Regions from separate parts of the Homo sapiens genome. Here regions 1, 2 and 3 are each linked to region 4. The links come from fine-mapping of genetic effects on plasma protein levels. A gene starts in region 4. Each other region holds a variant in brackets. All regions are shown on one strand. Distances are from middle to middle.

Evidence for each region. PIP is the posterior inclusion probability: the model's chance that the variant is causal. The UK Biobank Pharma Proteomics Project read protein levels with antibody pairs (Olink). The fine-mapping took linkage between variants from a reference panel, not from the people measured, so its PIPs are less certain.
Region 1: its variant is fine-mapped to the plasma level of the HPSE protein (UK Biobank, PIP above 0.99). The variant lies in the coding sequence of HPSE. If it changes the protein, the assay may bind it differently, which can mimic a change of level.
Region 2: its variant is fine-mapped to the plasma level of the HPSE protein (UK Biobank, PIP above 0.99). The variant lies in the coding sequence of HPSE. If it changes the protein, the assay may bind it differently, which can mimic a change of level.
Region 3: its variant is fine-mapped to the plasma level of the HPSE protein (UK Biobank, PIP above 0.99).

What each region holds. Positions count from the first base shown.
Region 1 is chr4:83,305,067-83,307,754 of GRCh38, reverse strand. HPSE (heparanase) reads left to right here. Exons shown (of 12, transcript NM_001098540.3): 9 at 1,438-1,552. Among named protein-coding and RNA genes, the nearest start is that of COQ2, 22 kb to the right of the region's middle. The variant G/A (reference allele first, on the strand shown) is at 1,455.
Region 2 is chr4:83,294,378-83,297,065 of GRCh38, reverse strand. It overlaps HPSE (heparanase), which reads left to right. Exons shown (of 12, transcript NM_001098540.3): 12 at 1,563-2,688. The coding sequence ends at 1,722. Among named protein-coding and RNA genes, the nearest start is that of COQ2, 11 kb to the right of the region's middle. The variant C/T (reference allele first, on the strand shown) is at 1,570.
Region 3 is chr4:83,301,072-83,303,759 of GRCh38, reverse strand. HPSE (heparanase) reads left to right here. Exons shown (of 12, transcript NM_001098540.3): 10 at 1,492-1,610; 11 at 2,654-2,688. Among named protein-coding and RNA genes, the nearest start is that of COQ2, 18 kb to the right of the region's middle. The variant A/G (reference allele first, on the strand shown) is at 1,487.
Region 4 is chr4:83,333,718-83,336,405 of GRCh38, reverse strand. HPSE (heparanase) reads left to right here and starts at 1,558. Exons shown (of 12, transcript NM_001098540.3): 1 at 1,558-1,850. The coding sequence starts at 1,624.

The DNA.
Region 1 (2,688 bases), 29 kb after region 4:
CATGGAAGCAAGAGGAATAAAGAATGGAGATGTTTGTTTTGCCATTAACTAAAGATCTGGGGTGTCGGGGAGAAGGGGGATAGAGAAGGAGAAGTGGGAAGAGGTGTCCATAATAGCTTAGGTGCAATTCTGCTTATTTTACATTTTACCCCCGCTGACTGCCACTTTTTCTTCAGCCCTCACACATTGTTTGTGCAGGGACCTCATAGGACCAGGAATTGTCTATAGAGGTGGGAATTTGTCTCACCCTGAAAGGGATACCTCTAGCATGGTAATAGTCTTCTAGGATTTGTTATCATATGGAAAGATGTAAAGGGAGGGATTCTGCTGCTGCTGCTGCTGCTGCATGCAGTTGCCATTTCATTTAAATGACTTATTTATAATTGATGACACTTTTCTGGCTTCCTGTTAATTCCTCCCTCAAAGATCAATAAACCAGAACCAGGCATGGTGGCATGCACTTGTGGTCCTGTAACCACCCAACAGGTTCACCTTGCCTGCTGTCTAGATAGAGCCAATTATCAAGACAGGGGAATTGCAAAGGAGAAAGAGTAATTTATGCAGAGCCAGCTGTGCAGGAGACCAGAGTTTTATTATTACTCAAATCAGTCTCCCCGAACATTCGAGGATCAGAGCTTTTAAGGATAATTTGGCCGGTAGGGGCTTAGGAAGTGGAGAGTGCTGGTTGGTCAGGTTGGAGATGGAATCACAGGGAGTGGAAGTGAGGTTTTCTTGCTGTCTTCTGTTCCTGGATGGGATGGCAGAACTGGTTGGGCCAGATTACCGGTCTGGGTGGTCTCAAATGATCCACCCAGTTCAGGGTCTGCAAGATATCTCAAGCACTGATCTTAGGTTTTACAACAGTGATGTTATCCCCAGGAACAATTTGGGGAGGTTCAGACTCTTGGAGCCAGAGGCTGCATTATCCCTAAACCGTAATCTCTAATGTTGTAGCTAATTTGTTAGTCCTGCAAAGGTAGACTTGTCCCCAGGCAAGAAGGGGGTCTTTTCAGAAAAGGGCTATTATCATTTTTGTTTCAGAGTCAAACCATGAACTGAATTTCTTCCCAAAGTTAGTTCAGCCTACACCCAGGAATGAAGAAGGACAGCTTAAAGGTTAGAAGCAAGATGGAGTCAATGAGGTCTGATCTCTTTCACTGTCATAATTTCCTCAGTTATAATTTTTGCAAAGGCGGTTTCAGTCCCAGCTACTTGGGAGGCTGAGACAGGAGGATTAATGGAGCCCAGGAGTTTGAGGTTGCAGAGAGCTATGATCACGCCACTGCACTCCAGCCTGGGTGACAGAGTGAGACCCTGTCTCTAAATAAATAAATAAGTAAATAAATAAATACATAAATAAAATCAAGATGGTGTGCAATTAGAATTGAGCGATTTTGTTTCCAAACCTCAAGAAAGCTTGGTCTTGCTCTGTCCCAGGTGGCTGGATAAATTGG[G/A]CCTGTCAGCCCGAATGGGAATAGAAGTGGTGATGAGGCAAGTATTCTTTGGAGCAGGAAACTACCATTTAGTGGATGAAAACTTCGATCCTTTACCTGTAAGTGACCATTATTTTCCTAATTCTAGTGGAGTAGATTAAAGTCAACTCAGGACCTCTGGTGTTAACCTCCTATGAACAGTCAGTCCTCTCAGTAACTAGCCAAATCATGAGATGATGAATTAGAAGGAGCCTTAGATAGCATCCAATCTAACATTTTTTTGTGTGTTTGAAGAGAAGAAATCAAGAGCTAGGAATAACTTTTTAAAGGTAAGCCATTTGCAGTATAGTGTGGATTTTGTTTAAAAGGGGATAATTTGAAATTTTATGACTCATTATACAAGACAAAATAAGTTGGATTTTCAAATGTTTTACAAAGTAAATCAAAGTTATAATTGCCTACAGTACGCAAAGCTTCAAAACATTTTTTATGTTATGAAATTGTAATTTATTTAACCTTAAAATGAGCCAGTACCATGTGTTTGCTTAAAAATCTCATGCTAAGAATTTACTATGTTGTTAATAATCTTCAAGATATTTATGAATAAAGTCTTATTTCTAATCCTTCCTCCAACTGTATCTGGTGCTAAATCAGGAAATGTTTCTTCCCAAAAAGCCTCGTGGAAGATCTGTATGTCTAAATATATGTCAGGGATAATACAGATGTAGCCCTGAGAAGCATGACCTTGATTTTTATAGTCTAAAATGTCATTTGCAGATATATATTTTCTAAGAATAATTCCTAAAAGAATTATTTGAATGTTGTAGGAAAGCTAAGAAATTTTGCAAAGAGCGTACGTGAAAATATAAGCTAGGCTTTTGTGGTTTGTGGATAGACTTCCCAACAAAATTGCTTTTTATCTATAGTGATCCAAGCTTGTGGAACATATTAGTCATCTTTTTTTAGAAAATTCTTAGAAAAGTGATCTTGCAAAAATGGAATTTATCTTTCCCCAAGTATATTCTGTCATGTATAGAGTTAAACTAAGCATAGTAATTTCACCAGACAAACATTCAAAATCTACTCCTGACCTTTTTATCTCATCCAAATTTTCCCAGGGCCCAGACATAAACCTTTGCCTTACGAACTCTTTGTATATGCACTAAATATGCTTCTCCTTCAAGGTTCTCAGTCAGCTAGAAAAATGTGCAAGAGTAAATGGTACCCTTCTCACTTGTAGATCCAAGAGAATTAG
Region 2 (2,688 bases), 39 kb after region 4:
ACTAATGTGTTGTGCTACAATGTTACAATGACTATGACATTGCTAGGCAATAGGAATTATAATTTTATCATTTTATGGAACCACACTTATATATGCGGTCCATGGTGGACCAAAACATCCTTATGTGGCATATGACTGTATACATGTACACAAAAAATAGATGAAAGAATGAATATACATCAAAATATTTAAAATGGTTATAATGACTTAGGTTACTTTTATTTATCTTAGTAATAATAATGATGATAGATAATACTTTTATAGTGTTTACTATATAAAAGACACTGTTATAAGTGTTCTACATACTTTACATGTATTACCTAAATGATATAAATATAACTCTGACAGTAACTAATCTTATACGTTCTCTTTTCTTTTTTTTTTTTTTCTTTTTTTAGACAGAATCTTGCTCTACCAGGCTGGAGTGCAGTGGTGCAATCTCGGCTCACTGCAACCTCCGCCTCCCAGGTTCAAACGATTCTCATGTCTCAGCCTCCTGAGTAGCTGGGACTACAGGCACACACCACCATGCCCGGCTAATTTTTGTATTTTTGGGTAGAGATGGAGTTTTGCCATGTTGGCCAGGCTGATCTTGAACTCCTGGCCTCAAGTGATCTGCCTGCCTCAGCCTCCCAAAGTGCTGGGATTACAGGTGTGAACCACTGTGCTCGGCCTAATCTTACAAGTTTTCAATATTTAAAGAGTGCTAACTTTGTTGACAATATAAAACATATTTGAGAAAAAGAGATATAAGCATCTTATTTAGAATTATGAAAATATCAATAGACCTACAGCCGACTAAAGCTTTTCTTCATAAGCTCTTGCCTATATTGATTCGCTCCTGTGAATATGCATTAATTTGATTTAAATAATAAGTATGTATAAGAAATAACACTTTTCCTTAATTTTTAAGAACGTTCAACAGTTTTTAATTTGAATTCCAATAGTGAAATACATAGAAAATATAAAATTTTCTGTAGTTTAGCCAAATTGTTTTTGTTTCACCACAGCATTCTACCAAAATTTCTTAATAACAGTAAGAAAATGAATGCATACCTCCTGCAGGGAGAGGGGAGTTAGGCAGTTTATGGGCATAGTTACAAGTGAGAAATTTCATTGGCTACCATTTATGCTAAATTCATAAAAACTGCATTCAATTCTATATATCTATTTTCTTTACATAAAAAAGGTTTCAATTATTGGCCATTAAATAAAATAGCCACCATTCCAGAAGTTGTGTCATGTTTATCCTTTTTATACCACCATCATATTGCCTAGTATATAGATTGTGTGTGTTCCATTTTCTGTAATGGGCCAGACAGTAAGTATTTCTGGCTTTGGAGTCCATATGGTCTCTATCATAACTACTCATCCCTGCCATTGTAGCTTAAAGATTATCTAGGTCAAATGCCTAAGTGATATAGTGTTGAAATACAAGTTATATAATATAGGCTGCCACAAAAAAAAATTTATTTGGTCTAAAAAAGATTTCATGACTTTTGTAGCAGCATGGGTGGGGCATGCACCACTTGGTTAACTCGGTGTATCTTTCTCCTTTGCAGATCTGTC[C/T]AACTCAATGGTCTAACTCTAAAGATGGTGGATGATCAAACCTTGCCACCTTTAATGGAAAAACCTCTCCGGCCAGGAAGTTCACTGGGCTTGCCAGCTTTCTCATATAGTTTTTTTGTGATAAGAAATGCCAAAGTTGCTGCTTGCATCTGAAAATAAAATATACTAGTCCTGACACTGAATTTTTCAAGTATACTAAGAGTAAAGCAACTCAAGTTATAGGAAAGGAAGCAGATACCTTGCAAAGCAACTAGTGGGTGCTTGAGAGACACTGGGACACTGTCAGTGCTAGATTTAGCACAGTATTTTGATCTCGCTAGGTAGAACACTGCTAATAATAATAGCTAATAATACCTTGTTCCAAATACTGCTTAGCATTTTGCATGTTTTACTTTTATCTAAAGTTTTGTTTTGTTTTATTATTTATTTATTTATTTATTTTGAGACAGAATCTCTCTCTGTCACCCAGGCTGGAGTGCCATGGTGCGATCTTGGCTCACTGCAACTTTAAGCAATTCTCCTGCCTCAGCTTCCTGAGTAGCTGGGATTATAGGCGTGTGCCACCACGCCCAGCTACTTTCTATATTTTTTGTAGAGATGGAGTTTCGCCATATTGGCCAAGCTGGTCTCGAACTCCTGTCCTCGAACTCCTGTCCTCAAGTGATCCACCCGCCTCAGCCTCTCAAAGTGCTGGGATTACAGGTGTGAGCCACCACACCCAGCAGTGTTTTATTTTTGAGACAGGGTATCATTCTGTTGCCCAGGCTTGAGTGCAGTGGTGCAATCATAGATCACTGCAGCCTTTTAACTCCTGGGCTCAAGTCATCCTCCTGCTTAGCCTCCCAAGTAGCTAGGACCACAGACACATGCCATCACACTTGGCTATTTTTAAAAAATTTTTTGTAGAGATGGGGTCTCGCTATGTTACCCAAACTGGTCCTGAACTCCTGGACTCAATTGATCCTCCCACCTTGGCCTTCCAGGTGCTGGGATTTCTTTGGGAGTACAGCATGGTACAGCAGGAGATCATTTGATGTTACCTCTGTGCAGTGTTGCTAGTCAGCGAAAGACTATAATACCTGTGGGGACAGCGATTAGCCACCACAACCAGTCTTTATT
Region 3 (2,688 bases), 33 kb after region 4:
CCCAGGAGTTCAAGACCAGCTACGGCAACAAAAAATCAAAAACTTATCTGGGCATGGTGGCACATGCCTGTGGTCCCAGCTACATGAGAGGCTGAGGCAGGAGGATCGCTTTAGCCCAGGAGGTTGAGGCTGCAGTAAGCTGCATTCACACCACTGCACTCCAGCCTGGGTGACAGAGTAAGACCATGTCTCAAAAAAATACATATTTTAGTATGTATCCTTTTTGTAAAAACACAATACTTTTATCATACTTTAAATAATAACAATAATTCCTTAGTATCACCAAATATTTTGTCAGTGTCTCACATTTTCCTTGTCTAAAATATTGTTGATAGTTATTCAAATCAGAATCCAAACAAGGTCCATATATTACATTTGGTTGATAAGTCTCTTAAGTTTGTTCATCTTTAAGTTATTCCTCCCTCTCTTTCATCTCTTGTAATTTATTAATGTGAAAAAACAGGTAATTTGTTCTATAGTATTTCCTACATTATAGAGTTTGCTAAATTTATTCCCTATGATATCATTTAGCATGTTCCTCTGTCCCCTGTGTTTCCTGTAAACTGGTAGTTATACCTAGAAGCTTGAGTTTATTCAGGTTTTTAATTGTATTTTTTTGCAAGAATTCTTTATTATCTGCTTCTGGAAGCACAGAATGTCTGGTTGTGTCTGGTTTTGATCTTGACAGCTACTGATGACCATTGCCTAATCCATTACTTTATTGGGGTGGGGGGAATAAGGTTTTAAAATAAATTTTTTTTTAAGATTTTTTTAACTGTTATTTTGAGACAGTGTCTCATTTCGTTTCCCAGGCTGGAGTGCAGTGGCACAATCACGGCTCACTGCAGCCTTGACCTCCTGGGATCAGGTGATCTTCTCACCTCAGCCTCCTGGGTACCTGGAACTACAGGTGCACACCACCACACCTGGCTAATTTTTTGTATTTTGTGTACAGAAGGGGTTTCATCATGTTTCCCAGACTGGTCTTGAACTCCTGGGTTCAAGTGATCTACCCACTTCAGCTTCCCAAAATCCTGGGATTACACTTTGGCCACCGTGCCTGGCCTAAATGAAATTATTTGTCTCTAAACAGACAGAAGTTTTACTTTAAAAATTTGTCTTTGTGTGTACATGTGTTTGTGTATGTGTGTGTGTCTAAAAGTTTGGCTTTGAGCTTTGCTTTGAATTCTTGGATGAACGATAACCAAGAATACTTAAACTCTGATCATTCTTGACAGATATCCCCTACAGGCTATGGCCTTTTGAATTGTGTCCTCCAGTGATAAAAAGCAGCAAGCACGATACTGCTCTCAGATTCATGGTGGTCACATGTGAGGGGAAAAAAAAAAAAAAGATGAATCCTATTTAAATGCCCCCAGGATAACAGTGATACTCTTTGTAGGATAACTATTTGCTTGCCACTGGTTTCATTAAATAAGGACATAAGTAAACATCTATTTTTGTCTCTTTCTCCCCAACCACCACA[A/G]CTAGGATTATTGGCTATCTCTTCTGTTCAAGAAATTGGTGGGCACCAAGGTGTTAATGGCAAGCGTGCAAGGTTCAAAGAGAAGGAAGCTTCGAGTATACCTTCATTGCACAAACACTGACAAGTAAGTATGAAACACACCCTTTACCAATCATCAAGTTTTAGTGGGTAAGCCTGTAACTTTACTCAAACACCCTGTTGCATGTGTCTATACATTGCATAAGTATAGGCAGTTGCAATTTAGTAAAGTTTTATACAACGATTTTATTTTATTTTATTTTTAGAAGAAAAATGCTACTTTTGTTGTTGTTGTTTTTTGAGACGGGGCCTCGCTCGTCACCCAGGCTGGAGTGCAGTGGTGCAATCTCAGCTCACTGCAACCTCCGCCTCCCGGGTTCAAGTGATTCTTGAAGAGGAGAACAATAATAACAACAATATTATTTTCAAAAGTTGTGACCGCAGTTTCTGGAGTTGAGAAGACATCGAGATTTTTGTAGCCTCATACTCTTGCTTTAGGTAGCAAAAAATGTTCCTAAATCTCAGGAATATTCTCTAGATAGGTTTCAATCTATCATTCCTGATAAGATGATGCTGAAATACTAATTCTAGCCAAAAAAGACCAGCTACCATTTCCGATTGTTGGTGACTGGGAACTCTGGATAGTGAGGACCCCAGTAGGAAGTAGCGAGGGGAATGGTTTGAATGGATAAATTCATAAAAAATGTCAGTAGATTTAATTTTCTTATACATTTCAGTCTTTTTATAAGGCTAGGAAAAGCCCCTGTTTTTATGGTTTATAATTTGAATTCACATGAACCCACAAAATTTGCCTTTTACCTTCCTATGTCTGAAAATGGATAGTCTGGCTGGCCTCTTAACAACCCAGCTGGCAGAGCTGTGAGGATCTCAGTGTGCTCTAGCCCAGACATTGGTAGCATGAACGGCAACATTTTTAATTGTGTTTTCAAAATAGGAGCACACTAGCGGTCTAAAACGATCATAAAAGAAGGATACTAAGAGGGCCCACTGTCATTATGGATCCTAATACTTAGGATGCATTATGGATTGTCATTATGGATACTAATACTTAGGATCACATTTGTAATTGAGTTTTTAATTGCTTAAATTAGATACATATTTCTATTAAGTTAACCTCTTTGCTTTTAGTCCAAGGTATAAAGAAGGAGATTTAACTCTGTATG
Region 4 (2,688 bases):
TTCCTCGGCTCAAGCAATCCTCCCACCTTGGCCTCCCAAAATGCTGGCATCACAGGCATGATGGCATCACTGGCATCACATACCATGCCTGGCCTGATTTATGCAAATTAGATATGCATTTCAAAATAATCTATTTTTATTTGTTGCCTTATTGGTGGTACAATCTCAAGTGGAAAAATCTAAGGGTTTTGGTGTTATTTGCTTACTCAACCAATATTTATTAGACTCTTACTAAGCACCAACATGATCACATGCCTGAGCTATGGCTAGCATAGCGTGTGAGACAAACTTAATCTCTGTTTTGGTGGAGCATATAATCTAGTAGATGAAGCCAATGTTGAGCAACATCACAATACTAACAAATTGAGGATGCTACGAGAGTGTCTAACAAATTGAGGATGCTACGAGAGTGTCTAACAAATTGAGGATGCTATGAGAGTGTGTCATGGAGAGCTGCCTGGAGATTGAGAGAAAGCTTCCTTGAGGGAAGTTACATTTCAGCTGAAACACACTGCCATCTGCTCGAGGTTTTGTAACTGCATTCACATCCCGATTCTGACACTTCACATCCCGATTCTGACACTTCACCCAGTTACTGTCTCAGAGCTTGGGTCCGCATGTGTAAAACAAGGACAGTATGCACTTGGCAGGGTTGTGAGAAGGGAAGAGAACACAAGTAAAGCACCTGTATCAGGCATACAGTAGGCACTAAGCGTGCGATGCTTGCTATGATTATACATCAGTGTAAGCATCAAGGAAAAGCTGAAGAAAAGTCTGACCAACAGCGAAAGATAAATGCGCAGAGGAGAAATTTGGCAAAGGCTCCAAATTCAGGGGCAGTCCGTACTCTACACTTTGTATGGGGGCTTCAGGTCCTGAGTTCCAGACATTGGAGCAACTAACCCTTTAAGATTGCTAAATATTGTCTTAATGAGAAGTTGATAAAGAATTTTGGGTGGTTGATCTCTTTCCAGCTGCAGTTTAGCGTATGCTGAGGCCAGATTTTTTCAAGCAAAAGTAAAATACCTGAGAAACTGCCTGGCCAGAGGACAATCAGATTTTGGCTGGCTCAAGTGACAAGCAAGTGTTTATAAGCTAGATGGGAGAGGAAGGGATGAATACTCCATTGGAGGTTTTACTCGAGGGTCAGAGGGATACCCGGCGCCATCAGAATGGGATCTGGGAGTCGGAAACGCTGGGTTCCCACGAGAGCGCGCAGAACACGTGCGTCAGGAAGCCTGGTCCGGGATGCCCAGCGCTGCTCCCCGGGCGCTCCTCCCCGGGCGCTCCTCCCCAGGCCTCCCGGGCGCTTGGATCCCGGCCATCTCCGCACCCTTCAAGTGGGTGTGGGTGATTTCGTAAGTGAACGTGACCGCCACCGAGGGGAAAGCGAGCAAGGAAGTAGGAGAGAGCCGGGCAGGCGGGGCGGGGTTGGATTGGGAGCAGTGGGAGGGATGCAGAAGAGGAGTGGGAGGGATGGAGGGCGCAGTGGGAGGGGTGAGGAGGCGTAACGGGGCGGAGGAAAGGAGAAAAGGGCGCTGGGGCTCGGCGGGAGGAAGTGCTAGAGCTCTCGACTCTCCGCTGCGCGGCAGCTGGCGGGGGGAGCAGCCAGGTGAGCCCAAGATGCTGCTGCGCTCGAAGCCTGCGCTGCCGCCGCCGCTGATGCTGCTGCTCCTGGGGCCGCTGGGTCCCCTCTCCCCTGGCGCCCTGCCCCGACCTGCGCAAGCACAGGACGTCGTGGACCTGGACTTCTTCACCCAGGAGCCGCTGCACCTGGTGAGCCCCTCGTTCCTGTCCGTCACCATTGACGCCAACCTGGCCACGGACCCGCGGTTCCTCATCCTCCTGGGGTAAGCGCCAGCCTCCTGGTCCTGTCCCCTTTCCTGTCCTCCTGACACCTATGTCTGCCCCGCCAGCCGCTCTCCTTCTTTTGCGCGGAAACAACTTCACACCGGAACCTCCCCGCCTGTCTCTCCCCACCCCACTTCCCGCCTCTCATTCTCCCTCTCCCTCCCTTACTCTCAGACCCCAAACTGCTTTTTGGGGGGTATCATTTAAAAAATAGATTTAGGGGTTACAAGTGCAGTTCTGTTCCATGGGTATATTGCATTGTGGTGGCATCTGGGCTCTTAGTGTAACTGTCACCCGAATGTTGTACATTGTATCTAATAGGTAATTTCTCATCCCTCATCCCTCTCCCACCCTCCCACCTTTTGGAGTCTCCAGTGTCTACTATTCCACTAAGTCCATGTGTACACATTGTTTAGCGCCCACTCTAAATGAGCCTTTTTGTTTCATTCATTCTGTAAGTGTTGAATAGGCACCACCTAAGGTCAGGTATAAGTGGAAATTTGAAAAAGAAACTGCCCACTTGCCCCAGTACTTCCCTAGCCAAGAGGAGGGAAACCAGGCAGGTGCACCTGAAGGCCTGTGAGTGCTTGATTTGCTGTGCAGTGTAGGACAAGTAAGATTGTGCATAGCCTTCTGTATTTAAGACTGTGTTAGGAAGATTTCTCTTTCTTTTCTTTTCTTTTTCTTTTTTCTTTTCTTTTTTTTTTTTTAGGCAGATGAAAAGGGCGTCACAGAACAGGAATAAAAATCTAAATATTCAATAAATGAGACCTAGGAGACTACTGCAGTGACTTACAAAGTCCTAATAAAAAGATGTCTCTCCAAAATGGGGCTGCA